Linked DNA regions of Homo sapiens: region 2 is linked to region 1. Evidence: fine-mapped expression QTL. Tissue or cell type: monocytes. Region 1 holds a variant in brackets; the other region holds the start of a gene. All regions are shown on one strand. Distances are between the middles of the regions.

Evidence for each region. PIP is the estimated chance that this variant, and not a neighbour inherited with it, causes the effect.
Region 2: it holds the start of DYRK2, and the variant in region 1 is fine-mapped to the expression of DYRK2 in monocytes (TOPMed, PIP above 0.99).

The regions. Positions count from the first base shown.
Region 1 is chr12:67,577,413-67,585,599 of GRCh38, forward strand. The region is part of intron 2 of LINC02442 (long intergenic non-protein coding RNA 2442); the gene reads right to left. Among named protein-coding and RNA genes, the nearest start is that of LINC02442, 8.5 kb to the right of the region's middle. The variant C/T (reference allele first, on the strand shown) is at 3,209.
Region 2 is chr12:67,643,759-67,651,945 of GRCh38, forward strand. It overlaps DYRK2 (dual specificity tyrosine phosphorylation regulated kinase 2), which reads left to right and starts at 4,987. Exons shown (of 3, transcript NM_006482.3): 1 at 4,987-5,424; 2 at 6,039-6,187. The coding sequence starts at 5,376. RefSeq lists silencers at 4,650-4,759, 4,860-5,159, 5,170-5,829, 5,990-6,379 and an enhancer at 7,460-7,509.

The DNA.
Region 1 (8,187 bases):
GTTGATAGATCTCAAATATACTTCTCTATTTGTCTTATAAGAAATATTATTCCCTGTCTGTGGAAAAATGCAATAAATAACCCTACACATATATCTTTCATTAGTATTGATTTTACTTCTTGGAAGTTGATAGTTGGGAGGAATGGTATATTTTTCAATTCTGTTGCTATTATTAAATTGCTCTTAAAAAGACAGCAACATGTCACATTTCTACCAGAAATAGTGGAGAGTATACTTTTTCTTGCAACTCTGCAAGTAATAGGTATTCTCATTTCATTTTTGTGTCTGATGGGTTCAAGGAGATGTCAACTTTTAGTAAGCGGTGGTAACAGTCTATCTAGTGTAACTGACTGGCCAGAGTAGCAGAGTGAGAGGTGGTAGGAGGGTTATTGTTGAAATAACCAATATCCTGTGCTGTGTACTGTAAGAGAAGAAAAGAGAAGAGAAGAGGATGGGGTTTTCTGTAAAGGTTCTAGTAGAACAGCTGACCAAGCTTCCTAATGTGTTGAAGATTGTGGTCCAGAGACTTTTGGAAATATAATAAATGTCCACTTTAGGCAATTGTATTGATTAATGTCAGGTGCAGGGTGCAGCTAAAAGTAACAGAGACAATAACAGTACAAAAAATAATATCTTACGTGATAGTCTGGAGGTAGCAATTCAGGATTTCAGGGTTGGTAAGGCCCTGCCCAGTGTCAGCCTTTTCTATCTGTTGAACTGAAATTCGTGGCTTCAGTTCCCAATGTCACCTCATAATCAAGTATGGCTGCTGGAGCTCCAGCAATTACATCTACATCAAGTGGAAAAAGGAAGAAATTGAAGAAGAAGAACACATTCCTTCCCTTTAAGGAAATTCCTAGAAACTGTGCACACCAATTCTGCTTATAGCTCATCAGCAAGACCAGGAAATGTCTATTCCGGATGGCCAGCTAAAAATCGAGAGTTCTTTTTCCAGGTTGACTGAGAGAAGTAGAATGTATAATGGAGGAAATTAGAAATTTCTGCCACAGCTATCACTGTCTCAAGTAGAAATTGTCTAAGAAAAGGCTTAACTACAATGATGATGGCAAGTTCCTGGGTTTGGGTTATTAAACACAGCCTTAGATAGGAACTGATTATCTTGAACTAAATAGACATGATTGGGTTCATTTCTACAAACTTCCTCACTTGTGGTTCTCAACTAGCATTGATTTCACCCCCCAAGAGACATTTAGCAATTTGAGACATTTTAGTTGGTCCCAATTGGGAGATGGTGGATGCCACTGGCATTAATGGGTAAAGACTAAACATCCTACAATACACAGGACATTCACACAACAAAACTTATCTAGTCCAAAAATGTCATTAGTGCTGAGGTTGGTAAACCTTTCCATAAGCAATTCATAAAGGCTTTAGTCAAATTTCAGGGTCTAAGCAGAGAGCTGTGTGCATTGCCAATTTTGAGCGATTAAAATAATTACATTTCATATTACTCTGGCTTCATTTGGGCCATGGAATTCCTCATTTGATCCACTGGGTGAGAAATTAAGTAATTATTTCCCCAAAACACATGATCTCTTTTTATGTAGACTTTTTATGTTGCTATGTGGCAGTGTGACCTATCGTTATGATGTTAGTACGATCATTTCAGAATCATTTTCAACCCTCTAGACCAACCTACTTTTCTATCCTTCCTGAGATGGGTGATGTTTTCCTCTTTCATATTTCCTGTTTCTCACTGCACTTACCACATTGCACAATAATCACATGTTGACACGTCTGAATCCCCTACTGGATCACAAGCTCCTTTAAATCAGGGACAATATTTTATTTATTTTTGTATTTCTAGTGCCCAGTGCAGAGTATGCAACTTAGCAGGAGCTCATAAATACACATTGAACTGAACTGAGCTCCTGTTTATCCTTGGGCCTCTCTTCATTCCAGGCCTGCTTGGATATCTTCTGGTTTGGCACTCACAGCAAAGAACCTATCACTAAAATGCTTCCCATTCTGGCACTTCATCTAAAATCCAGAGGATGGGAAAATTCAGAGAACAGGAACTAAGGTGTTAATAATTTAGTTTCTCCTGTGCCCTCTCTGAGTCAGCTGCCTCTCTGTGGTTTACATTTTCTCCCAACCACATCCAGCTTTCAAATATAAGTATCAACTAAAAACTCATTGAGGTGGTTTTTGATGTAGGAAACAGAAATTGAGTGTGTTCCATTTTAAAATTTTCTTGAGGGAAAGATGATACCACCTGGCCTGAAGTTGGCAGGTTGGTTCCAAGGAGGTTGAGGAACAAAGGTGGAGGAGGTAGGAAGCCATAGCAGTGAAAATGTTTGCAGGCCCAGGAGCAGGATGAGAATTTACTGCAAACTGGCGGGTGGTGTCAATTCTCTATTTTGGTTGGTGGAAGAGGTTAGCTATCATGAGAGTCCACAGGCCTATCCACACATCCTTCAGCAGGCTTCTATTGAAGGATTCTTCTGCCTGGAGATAGTTAAGGTGGTTTCTCTTTCACTAAGAACATATCATATCCAACAGAATCCAGCACATTCTAGTTAGAGATTTTCTTGAGACCAATTTATATAACCTAACAACTATTAGGTAGAAAAGGATCTTCTCACAGCACCATGAATAGAGACAGCTTTTTCTGACCACTCATCCATCCTCATGTTTTTTTGGGGGGGTGGGGCAGGGGGGTGATTTGGGGGTTATGGTTTATTTAATGAGATGCACGGCCAATAATCTTTTAAAAATATCAAGAATACAATATCTTCTGTACTGCTGTGATGCCTCTGTTGAGACTTACTGAATGGCCATGCATGGAACTTGAATTGACCAAGACCATTTATTCATTCATACATTCAGTCATGCATACATGCATTTAATTTATATTTATTGAGCTTTTACTAGGAGCTAGATGTTCATGAAGATTGTAAGACACTTTTACTAGGAGTTAGATGTTCATGAAGATTGCAAGACACAGAGCATGGTTCTGTCCTGATACAGTCTAGGCAAGATAAAGATAAAAGGTGGGATGGTGATAAGAACAATGGTGACTAAGAGCTTAAGAAAATGGTACAGAGTCAGAGTGTCAGTGAGTTCAGAAGAGTAAGCAGTTCTTCAACATAGACTCCAGAGGTTGGGAAAAACTTGATGAGAAGTTGAAAACTGAGCTGAGTCTTGCAGGGTGGGTAGGATCTGGACGTGCCTTAGGGCTCTACAC[C/T]TGTGGTTCTTTCTTCATAGAATGCTCTAATGCTTGGATCAATCCTCTTAATTTTTTATATCTCAGATTAAAAGTAATTCCCTCAGAGAAGGCTTCCATGACCCACTGGATTAGGTAACATGCCACCTTTACGTGTCATCATAAATGTACTTCTGTGTAGCACTTATCAAAACTAGAGCTTAAAGCTCCTGAAGGAGGGACTATGTTTATCTTGTTCACCTTTGAATCCCCAGAACCTATTAAAGTTTTTGAAACTGAGTAGGTACACCATAAATATTTGTCCAAATAATAAATGAATAAGTAGGCGTAGAGAAACGGTGGGTGTTCCTGAGTAGTATGAGCGGGTGTAGACATGAGTGTGTGCATGGCAGGCTGTGAGGTTCTGTGTAGATTGCATAGTATACCTGTGTGTGGAGCAGTGGAACATGATTGTGAGGGTGGGTTGACTGTCTAATATCAGGGAAAGAGGTTAGTCTTTTTCTATTGGTCATGAAGCTGTGGAAACAACATACTGAAATTGATTATTTTGAAAATTAATCTGTTTATATTACAAGAGTGAATTTGATGAGGAAAGGATTTGTAGAGCTTTGCATCCTTAATAACTAACAGAAACAGGGCTGCCTTTCAAGAATCTGGAGTAGGAGCTAGTTTATTAAACAGTGACTTAATATTTTCAAACTAGAGACAATAAGGGTCAAATCCCTACCTCATAGAGACATGGAAAATGGAAGCTCCTCGTTCCTATGATAGGTTGTGTAACCCCCATGCAGGTTTATTCTGTGAGGATGCTAAATATACCAATCAGACTGCTCCTTCATTTAGGAAATTGCACAATGAAGCTTTAAAGATTAAAATTTAATTCCTTCCATGAGTTCATCTGAATTGAAATGTCTTTTGAAAACCCAGATTGCAATATCCTCTCCCACTACTCCTCCTGACCTTTCCCTTCCTTGATTCCATTCCTCTTTAATTTCCTGAGCTCTGGCTCATATGTGGAGAATTTATTTCATTCTACAACCTCCCAAGCATTTACTCATAAAAGGATGTCCTAGAGGCAGAATGGAGCCATGTAATCATGAACACTGATTATGTGGCTTCCACCATCCTGTGGGCTCTTCACTCTCCCCTTCATTAGACCTTCAATTAGACTATAAACTCCTTGAGGACAGGGTCCAATCATAATTCACCCTTGCATCCACTTATCATTACCTGCATTTTGTGGAGATAGCTCTTTGGTATGTTTGTTGAATGATTTGAGTCATTCAACAAACGACTCAAGAATGGGTCAGAAGTTTAGATGCAGTTTGCTGGCTCTCATCTGGGAATGAGAGAAAGTCTCATACAGTCCCTCTAGAACTAGGACTTTTCTGGAATCAGAGTAGAATCAGCCCCACTAATTCTGGTGGGTTCTGGTTTCACTTTAGCCAGACTTGGCTACCTGTCCTTTTAGTTATCTGACCAATTTAGTTATGCTACTAGGTCCAGGCTTCTTACTTGGGAGGTGGCCAGGCACATGCTAATGATTCCAAGTCAGAGTTGCAGTAGAGTTGAGAGGGATAAGAAATAAAAATGTCCCATTCTGTGACTGGAAAGTAATCTACTAGATCTATTAAGATTCCTGAAAATGACTCTCTAACATTATGGTATGTGTGGAATTGCTCACACATATGTGTATTACACACATGTAATAAACACGTGAATGAAGTTTGCTGTTCGTTTCACCCCATCTTGTAAATACAATTCAGGCAAATGGAAGAGTTGGCAGAGCAGTGGAAAAGGCATTAGAATCAGATTCTATCTTCCCAATAATTTAATAAGACTCAGCCTTCTCACCCATAAAATAAGGAGTTGGAATACAACAGCTCTTTAGAGCACTTCTAGCTCTCAAATTCCATTATTCATCAGCCTGCCAGAAAATACATCTTCCCTTGCCAAATATGGACTCAACACCCCACCTCTTCCAGAAGTTCCCCAGATACCCCTACACACCTCCCTGGTTTCAGCCTCCTACTTCTCCAGCCTTCTCCAAGGCATTCTTCTCTCCCACTGCTAGCCCACACCTAAAAAAATGACTTCTTTTTATCAGCTCTTTTCTCTTTGCTTCCTCTTTCTGCATTCAAACCAGATTCGTCTCCAATATTGTTTGTTCACTGCCTAATGAAGATCAGGTCTGCAGTATGATTCTCATGGGTCCCAGGCACTTTTGCCTTCATGGGCCCCTTACTCCATTAAAAAATATTAAAACTGTTATTTTACAACTGTGTTAGTATAAAGTTGATTATTTTAATACTTTATATTAAAACATTTTCTGCAGCCTCAAGATTGTTGTGTGTGTGTGCGTGTTGTGTGTGTGTTTACTACTACGCCTAATGGATGGGTTGGCTCTGGAGGAAATAAGTAATCAATTACAGTATAGTATGGTAATTATACACATGTCCTATGAATAAGCAATAGACCTACACCCAAGAAAATTAACATTTTTTCTTCAGTGGAGAGAAGGAAAGGTCAAAAACAATTCAGGAAGTTAGAAATGGTAGATCAGGGTTCAGGAAAATCCCCCTTGACTGTGCTGCTCTACTATGACCCTGAAAGTCCTCCATTTGGCAGGCAGCAGCCTACCTAGTCTCTGTGCCATCATTCACTCATTGAACATCGTATATGTTGCAGGCATTGTTCAGGTGCTTGGGATACATCTGCAACTAACACAAACAAGGTTTCTTCTTTTAACCTCCCTGTAATGTGAATCTGAATATGAAGACGTAGCTTCTTGAAATGTATTATTTCCTGCTTTATGCAGTGGGAGCAAGGGGCTGATGCATTTCCCAGTGGCTTGGGGGTAAGGAGACGGCAGCACTCAGAGCTCCCTGGCTATGCTCATTAGGGAAGGCTCTGCCTGAGGAGTCCCTTAGTGGCAGTTCATATGATTACTAAAGATTATCTTTCTGAATCAAGATTGCTCTTCTGAAGCATGTTTGGGGGGAGTTCCTTGCAGGTGCTTTATTTCTCTAGGAGTTTCATGTTAAATATATTTGATATTGATGTAACTATTGCAACATAAATATTTTGCCTTAAAATAACAACCCTGGTTCCTTTTACATTTTTATAAAAAAAAAAAAGGATGACCCGATTTTATTTTCAAGGTAACAGGTGGAGGCTTCCAAATTTTCTACATGGGAGAAAGAAAAAGAACACCAAATGTTCTGTGCTTGCAGGAAAAACTCAAAGCATAGCTAATTCAAGCAATACCATTTGTTAATTTATCACAAGTGGGAGATACAAAGAGGACTTTTGAAATGAAGTCTAATAATTCCATATTAGGTGTGGTCCATGGTGCTGGCCATTTTTTACAGGTGAATTTTGTTCTTGTTCTTTGAAACTTGGTGGCTATTGAAAAGACTTTAGTGTTATTTTCCTATTAATTTAGACTCTAGGCTGCCTAATCTTATTGTTTCCAAAGTTGTAGAGGAAATTGTTGGCTCCCACTGGGAAAGAAAGGAAGACATTAGACGCTATCTTATAAAGGGAGCTGCATCTTCTTTTGAGATTCATGCATAGAAATCAATTGGGTAGAGAGCAATTGCACGGGATGCTAACAATGGTAGAGATGTTACCAGTCATCATTCTAAGTCTTCACTGTCTCCAAGCCTACTATGGTCCATACACACTATTTTTTCTCACTGTATTCTACATGCTGAGTGGACTGATCAAATTCAAGGAATAAACAGTCATTATTTATAGGGAACTTTTGGGATGGACTCTTATAGGACATAGGGTAATTCTTTGACCCCCTGCCCCCCCGCACAAAAATCTACCTAAATAAATCTAAGTATCTTTTGTTTATAGGAAGATTCTTATGAACAGCAAGCAGACTTTTAAAAACAGAAAAATTTCACTGTAGTGTGGATGCTTTGGGGCTTATACCATGAAATAATAAAGTCTGTATAATGTACTCTTAATTATGAGTTCATTTCTATGACTTTTTATTTCTCTCTCACTTCTTATTTTATATAAGGTGATTAATTATAGATTGACAATGAAAGAAACACAGACTTACATACCCACGGATTAAAGAAATCAGTCATTACATTTAATGGTGAGCCTAACAATGAGAGATGTGCTTCCCTTACGGTGTTTCTCGTTCAGGGTTAGTGTTAACTAGAATCCTGAGGGAAATTTGGCAAGGAGAATACTATTGAATTAAAACTTCGCTGAGTCTTAGTCCATTGAGCTTAGGAGCAAGAAAGAAAACCACATTGGTCAGTGTGGAGAGGTGTTAATAAAAGCATCCTTTGCTGTTTATCATTTCGTGGCTGACAGGCCTCCAATTGCGGGCGCCTAGAGCCTTAGCCGTGGCCCCCAGGTCACAGGAGCATGCTGTGATCCAAGAGACGAGGCTGAGCAGCCTTCATGTGGCAAATGCAGCAGGGCAGAGGCAACAGGGAACATTAAATGCATTTGCCATTGGGTAGGCAGCGTGAAGAGAGCTTTCATGAAGGTTTTAAAGGAGCTGGCAAAAAAAAAAAAAAAAATCACAGCTCCTCACAGACTTCCTCTCTGAGGAGATATCATGAAATAGATAAGGAGCCTCATTTGCAATAATTAGAGGCATAGTGTCCTCTATACATAAATGTTTTAGATTTCAGCCATGTAATGAGTTTGTTGTGAATATCAAGACTGAAGGAATGGGAGTGAATGGCTGCTCTGAATCCTGACACCAAAAAGATCTCAAAAGACAGTATAAGTGGTTCTGACAAGAAGACGGATTTCCAGGCCTTTTGAAAACCACATGAAATGAAGAAGAAAAAACCCATCCAAAGCATCACATTTTACAAACCACCACATGTGATGAGAGACATAAATGCAGCAAAATAACATAGGTACAAATGTGGACACAGAGTCCAATCTAGGTCCAGGTGATGCACAGTTTCGTTAGAGAGAAACTATCTAAGATACCTTGTCTTCTCCCCATGGCTTTCCCT
Region 2 (8,187 bases), 66 kb after region 1:
GACATATAACCAACCTGCCCAAACACCTCATATCACCAACTTTCTAGCGGTATAGAAATCTCCTCTTGATTTCCACACCAGTAGTGGCCACAGAGCCACACTCCAGAGGCAAATTCAGATACCTTGTAGCCATTTGGTTATGACGGCCATGCCTCCTACTTCTGAAAAGTTTACATTAGTAGACTTTAGGCCATAAGGTCTTCATATTCTTTTCTAGGTAGTTCTGGACCTTGGTGATGGAGACATAGAAGGTACCGCCAGTTAGTGGTGTTCTCTTTTTTTTTTTTTTTTTTTTTTTTAGATGGAGTCTTACTCTGTCTCCCAGGCTGGAGTGCAGTGGCACAATCTTGGCTCACTGCAGCCTCCACCTCCTGGGTTCAAGCAATACTCCTGCCTCAGCCTCCCAGTAGCTGGGATTACAGGTGCCCGCCACCATGCCTGGCTAATTTTTTTGAATTTTTAGTAGCAACAGGGTTTCACTATGTTGGCCAGGCTGGTCTCAAACTCTTGACCTCAAGTGATCCACCCGCCTCGGCCTCCCAAAGTGCTGGGATTACAGGCATGAGCCACTGCACCTGGCCTGGTGTTCTCTTAAAGGGAGTTAGATCCACCTTCACCAAAATGAGTCAGTTCCTTAATAATTTATCTAGCTGCTCCAAAAGCCCCTGCACCTTGTTTTCACATATCCATAGCAGATAAAGTTTAGAATATTTCTTTATTTTTACTTTTTTTGTGGAGACAGGGTCTTGCTATGTTGTCCAGGCTAGTCTCAAACTCCTGGTCCTCCCTCCTCAGCTTCTCAAAGCACTGGGATTATAGGCATGAGCCATCATGCCTGGCCAAGTTTAGGATAATTCTTAACCTGACTTGATCTATCCATAAACCTAACCCTAGGAAGATAGCAGTACCACCCCTCTGCCTGGCACCCCAAGTTTCCTCTATTCTGAATTGCTTCCCCTTCCCCTGGGACACATCATGCTTTCTTACAACTTGACGCTTCTGAACATCCTATTTCTTCCACTTGGAATGTCCTAACCTGTCTCGCCTAACTTGCAAATTCCCACGCGTCTTTAAAACCTCCACTGAAGCACAGCCCCTGCCAGACACCACTTAAGTGGAGCTCGTCCCTCTCTCCTGTGTGCTATCTCTGTGACTCCTATATGCCTTCTTTACCACTCTTTTCACTTCATTAAATGTCTGGTCTCCCGTACGGAACTGTGAACTTCCTAGTAGCAGTGACCAGAGCCAGGGATTATTTAACTGTGTAGCCCCATGTCTTAGTTTGTTAGGGCTACTATAACAAAATACTATAACCTGGGTAACTGTAACAAACAGAAATTTGTTTCTCACAGTTCTGGAGGCTGGAAAGTTCAAGAGCGTGGTGCTGGCAGATTTAGTGTCTGGTGAGGGCCTGTTTCCTTGTTCATAAATGGTGCCTGCTCTCTGTGTCCCCACATGGTGGAAAAGGCTACTAACTCTCTGCAGTCACTTGATCTAACCACCTCCTAATACCATCACATTGTGGGTTAGGATTTCAAAATATAAATTTGGGGCGTACACAAACATTCAGACCATAACATTCCACCAACGGTGCCAAAAATATGTTAGGTTCTTATAGCTTATTGCTTAATTGAATAAAAGAATGAGTTCCTGGACAGGTGTGGTGACTCACGCCTGTAATCCTAGCACTTTGGGAGGCCGAGGCAGGTGGATCACTTGAGGTCAGGAGTTGGAGACCAGCCTGGCCAACGTGGTGAAACCCCGTCTCTACAAAAAATACAAAAATTAGCTAGGCGTGTTGGTGGGCACCTGTAGTCCCAGCTACTCGGGAGGCTAAGGCAGGAGAACCACTTGAACCATGAGGCAGAGGTTGCAGTGAGCTGAGATTGTGCCACTGCACTCCAGCCTGGGCAACACAGTGAAATTCTGTCTCAAAAAAACAAAAACAAAACAAAACAAGAATGAGTTCCTAATAGATTGCCAGACTGAAGTGTAGTCTACTGCATTTGATGATTCATCATGTCTCCTAGGCCTAGCACATACTAAATTCTTTGTAAATGTTTCTGGGATAAGGGGATTAAATGAGTAAATGTGTTTTGAAACCAGCAATTTTTATGTTCATTTCCAATTTTCCTTGTGATCAGTACTTTGCCCAGTGAAAAATCAACTTTCTTCCTCAAGGCTCTATTCTGAGTTCTCCTGTTTCTCTCTACTCCTGCTAGATCCTGCCTACCTCCTTGTTATCTGAATCTGGATTTTAAACATATAGAACACACAGAGTTTTTACAATGGGTGAAAACCAAAGAGCAGTCTCTTGCTAACTGAATGAAGCTTTTAAGGAGGTTCCTATTTAAAATGAAATCTGCTCTGGTGGAGTTATGAAGATTAAACATGGTAATATTTGTGAAAGTGTTTTATAAAGAGATCAAAATATGTGTAATTATATGAGATAATTGATAATGATGCATTATGATAATAAAATTTGAGGGAAATAACTCCCCAAATTTACCCACTTCACTCTCCCCAAAGCCCCAGGAGTGTGTTTGTACAGCTTTTCTATTTAACATTCACTCAGGGAGATGTCAATATTTAATAGAATATTTAACAGAATGAGGAAAATCTAAGCAATGGTTAATAGTCACTTAGAGGTCAGTAAAAATTAATATAATTTTCAAAGATGTACCATTTATAATCAAAATAGCTATGGGGTAGGTCAACTGCAATATTTCCTTATGTTAAGCCACAAAAAATATACAAAATTGAAATTATATTTGTCATGATATAAAACAATATACTACAAAAAGTTCCCTATTGTCTTTTTCTTTCTTAAAGTTAATGATTGTGATCCTTTGTCAAAAAAAAAAAAAAAAAAGAATCAGTGCTCCTTTTCCTCATGTTAAATGAGTAAATTAATATTACTAATTTGGAAATCGTAAACTATGGCTTCCAGTAACTAGCATTTATTTTATTCATGAGAAAACAGTGGCATATTTAGCTTCTACTGAAGTATTGTACGAATAACTTAAGCAAAAAGGGGTGTCATATTATATTAAAATTGATTTTTTTGTTTCATTTTTTTATTTGAACATCAGTTGTATGGAGTACTCATTTTAAAAAGGAAAATGGTATGAAAATAATTGTTTTGAAAGGAGAAAAAAGAGGTGTGAGCTTTCTTGAAAGTGTAAGGAAAGTAGTGTGATGGAAGTCATAGTGAAATCAGACTGGGAGTCAGAAAACCGGTTCTAGTGTCATCTCTGCTACTTAGTAGCCCTTTTCTTTTAGTCGATTCTAAACACTAAATATGCTTCCGCATGTGGATTTAAATGTGATGGTCGCCAGTGACAAGCATAGGGGGATATTTCTTGCTAGGGTCAGTTCAGGTCATGATTCCTCTAAAGGCATATTATTGGATTATTTTACTGTGGGTCTACTTTATTAGGAGAAGGCCCCGAAAGGGTGTTTTGTTTTGTTTTGTTTTGTTTTGTTTTGTTTGGAGGGACGTAATACTAGGGAAAATTCTTTTTGTCACAGGTTCCCTCTCCCAGTGACCCTAACTTGGAGGCCTCTTTAGGAGTCCCAGAGACTCTGAGAGGGTCACACTGTACCTTGAAACAGTTTTTGGCGTTTGTATAAAGCTGCGGATGCGCTCTGTAGGAGGTTGCTATGACAATTTGCAAACAGTAGAGTGGATGAAACTCCGCAGGAGGTGGCTCCCTTCCGACTGGAGTCTGCACTAGTTCGGGCCTGCACAGTAGGTCCAGCCAGGAGCCAGAGATACTCGGGCGGGGCAGAGCATAATGGACCCCTGGCCCCAAGAGAACTTCAGAAACTAGGCACCTCTCGAGAAGGAAGTGCATGGCATAACTCTGCCCCGTCATCCGGGATTTGTCGGGCTTTCCCACCCCACCTCCTCTCACAGTTGAAGTGGCAAAACCTGTGACCTTTGAACAGAGGCGCACTGTGTGCCACGCACGACGAGGCGCGGATGTGAGACGGGAAAGCAATTTTTTTTTGGTCTTCAAGGAAAAGAGAGGTTGTATATGGCGAATAAAAAAGGCAGGGAAATTCTCCACGTGTCTTGGAAGGGAAGGGGGAAAGAGATGTGTCGGGTGGGGTGAGAGGAATTCGAGGTGTCGCTCCCTCACCGCAGAGCTGAAAGGAAGGTGTGTCTCTCCCAGTGGCCGCGCAGGGGAAAGGCTCGGAGTTGTAAGGAAATAGGAGATGTCTCTGATGTTTATTTTTGCCTAGCAACCCACAGCCAACTGCTTCCCCAGCTGCCGTCCACACGCGCCTCTCTGCCTCCCCTTGTCCTAGCGACTGGCGAGCGGTCACTTGGTGTCAGTAAACCGGGGAGGGTGTGTGGTGGAGGTGGGAGGGCAGCCCCCTCTTTCGCCCCTGCTCAGGGTCAACGAGCTCAGCGGCCGCCCCTCCCGGGACTTGCCTCTCCGAGGTGACCCTCGCACAACTAAGTTATCTACATGATGAATTGGGGAGAGGGGAGTGGCTAAGTCGCTGGGACCAAGAATGGGGGGACGGGGAAGCAGTACTGTCTGTGAGCAGCCATTCAGTTCGAAGAGCTGAAAATGCATTTATGTTTAGGGGTGCGCATGGCAGGGGAGGGGTCTCTGCGGCGCTTTCGGCCGGAGGGCAGCAGCGGTAGGTTGAGCTGTAGGGCAGAGAAGGGGCGCCGCGGGGCCGGGGAGGGGAAAAGGTCGCCGGAGTGGAGCCGAGGGAAGCAGTGCAGATGGCCGGAGGGGGCGGAGGAGGGCGAGCGGAGGCCGCCGAGTTTTCCGGGGAGCGGAGGGGCGGCTGCGCGCAAACCGGGGGACTGAGAGGAGCCGGGCGGGAGGTTGGGTGGGGGTGGGGTGTGCGTGGCCGCGGCCGGGGGAGCCGGGGGCGGGGCCTGCGGCGGCGGAGGAGGGCGGCGGAGGGCGGCGGGGGCGGGGCCGCGCGCCGGCGCCTGTGTGTGAGTGCGCGGGGGCGCGCGCGCGCGGGCCCGGGAGAGGCTCCCGAGCCAGGCGGTCTTCGGTCCTCGCAGCGCTTCCAGCTCCCCGCGCCCCTATGTGAGGGAGACGGGGAGGCCCGCGGCGCGCAGGGGAGGGCGAGGCATGTGCACGGGCCGGAGGGTGCTGCAGCCGCCCGAGGAAGAGGAGGACGGCGGCGAGGAGGAGAGCGGGGGGCTCGCGGCGGCGGGCCCCGGCCGAGGGGATGCAGTGGACTGTGTGTGTCTGGCTGTAGCAGACGCGAGGCGGCGACGAGGCGCCGGGGACCCGCGCGAGGGGCGGCCGGGAGGCGGCGGCGGCGGCCGCCAGAAGTAGCAGCAGGACCGGCGGCGGCGACGGCAGCCCTGAAATGCATTTTCCTCTCCAGCGGCCATGTTAACCAGGAAACCTTCGGCCGCCGCTCCCGCCGCCTACCCGACCGGTAAGGAGGCCGTGCCGCCGCGCCGCATCCCCGGACCCCCGCCGGCCCTGGGCAGCCCCTGTGGCGCGGGCGGCCGCTGCCTGCGGGACCTCGAACAAAGTCGGCGGCGCGGCGCGGGGGAGCCCCCGGGCGGACGACGCGCCCCGGGCTCCATGCAGGGTTGTGCGCGGCCCCGAAGGCCCCTCCGCGGGGAGCCCTCGGCCCGAAGAGGCTTCTGCCTGCCGGGGGCCCGGGCGGGGACCGTCCAGGCCTGCCGCCCCGCCCTGCGCTGCCCGGGGCTTGGCGTGGCCGTGGCTCCCTGCTCAGCTGTCCAAACCCACCTCCCGGCTGCTGGCCGTCTGCAACGTGGGCCGCCTAGCCCCGGCGCGGCCCGGCTCCCCCGCCGGGTCGCGAACTCGCGCGCCAGGGCCCCACTTAACTTTGCAGCTGCCCGCGCCCCGCCCGTGGGTGTGCGCTGGGGAGCCGTGACCCGAACGCCCGTTTTTACTGCCCCGGTCTCTTCCTCCGTCTTTCTTTGGAAGAGGGTTGTCGCTGCCCAGCGGGGTTGGAGGGGGGGTCTGGGTGACTTTCTCCCCCCTGACCCTCTTTTGTCTCCTCCCGCACGTGGCTTCCAGGCCGAGGTGGGGACAGCGCCGTTCGTCAGCTTCAGGCTTCCCCGGGGCTCGGTGCAGGGGCCACCCGGAGCGGAGTGGGGACTGGCCCGCCCTCCCCCATCGCCCTGCCGCCTCTCCGGGCCAGCAACGCTGCCGCCGCAGCCCACACGGTGAGACCCAGCCCGCGGGCGGCCCGGGCGGTGGGGGCGGGAGGGGCCCCAGGCCGAAGCACCCGGACTTGGAGGGGTCTGACGCCGGGAGAAGAGGGGTCGAGATACAAGCAGCCCCACGCCTCGGGCCGATGGTCTCTCGTCGACGCCGCCCTGGTTAAGTTGGGCGAGCCCAAAGCTGCAGCCACAAAGGAAGATTCGTGGCGTGGGCCCCTTACTTCCCCTCCAGAGCTCGCCCACCCATGACCTCCTCTTCCTAGGAACTTCCTCCTTGCTGCTTTCCTTCTTTCCTCATTTTTCGTCCTTGCATCCCAGAGTTCCCTTCCCTGACCCGGTAAACATCTCTGTCCTTCCCCCACCTCCCCGTGGGTAGTGGGTATTTATAGAAACAGATACGTGTTAGGGGACAGCCAGACCGGCCTGCCCGGAAAATCGATCCCCCAAAGAGCCTCCCAGGCCTGGCTCCAGCCAGCAGGGAGCATCGCCAATTGTCCCCCGCGTGTGTAAGCATGTTTTATGAGTGCTACAGGTTTGAGCACAGCAGAAATTGTAATCAACATTAACAAAAATAAGGGCCGCCGCAGCAGTCAAAACAAGCCACCCCTGTAGGATTCTGCAGTTGGACATTATTCAAAAGGAAAGGGCAAGCGTTGCTTTGGAGGTGGGAAAGAAAAAGCACCTAACAGGTGCTGTGGTCTCTGGGAGGGGAGAGGCCAGCGTGGGACTGGTTGCTGGTGGCTGCGGAGACTGGCAAGCTGGATTCGACTAAAGCATGTACCTTTTCTCAGCTCCCAGGGATCACCCTTGGATGGTGATGGCCAGCCTGGAGGAGGTCTGCACTTGGAGGAGGTGATGGTTTGGAGGTCTTTTTTTCCCAATTGGATTTTCCACAGGAACAGCCTAAGATGGTTCTGTGTGAGGGAGGCTTGCTAGGGATTGGTTTTATTTGCTAAGTGAAAGTTGAGTTCTTGAAGAAAAGGCCATCTCCGGTCTACAGGGGAGTAGCTCTGGGGACATATGTTATGGGGAAACTTGTTTGTCAGAGAACTGTGAGGGGATGTCTAGACTGTAGTTGCACCTGTTAGACTTGGAGAGATGTGTGCAAGTTTCGTAGGAAAATGTTTTGTTGCTGTTACTATCTTCCCCCTCCCTCTGTCTGTCTCTCTATCCTGACACATCTGGTCCCAGGGGCTGGGAATTCATTGCACAGAGGTTAACTAACCTGTGTTGGACTGTGGATGGTATAGTAGGATGGATGATTCTGTATATTACTGTTAAGTGTTCTTGTCACAGTGATATTTAAGGGACTGCCATTGATTTTAGGGGTTTGGATTTTTTTGTTTGGGATCATCTGACAATTTGGAAAATATAATACCCAGTTTTTTGCTATGTGTTGATGTAATCACATGACATGGTGTGAGCTGGAAAAAGAACTATTTGGTTTGCATGTGGATTCCAATTTTGTAAGGATGGGCTTTGCTTGATCAGAGCCTCTTTGCAATTGAAATACATGTAATGAAAGTAGATGAAACGACAAGTCTCCACTGGAGGGAGAGCCTGTGGTGCACCAGAAAAGGAAGGATGCGAATGTGCTTCTCAGTACTCCTCATAATGGAGGCCTGTATTTTGCTGTGGCATATGCCAGATTTACTTGTTTTTAACGTGTGTGTAAACTTCGGTATGCTGTTAATTATTAGATGCTTGACTTTGAAGGTGTGAATTTGGGTTTCGATGGTGGTTTAGTTTTGATTTTATTTCTATAACATAGCAGATTTCATAGTACAGGAAAGGTTACAAGGACCACAGAGTTTATCTGGTTCTATTCTTTCAATTTATAGATGAGGAAACAGACTCAGACAAGGTAACTGGTTTCATCAAGATTCCCCAGCCAGTTCATATCAAGGCCAGAGTGAAAGCCTACATCCTCCTGCATCTAGTTTTAATATACTGATGGAGACTGCTAATTCTAGGAAATTGTACTAGCCTCATTATAAATGCAA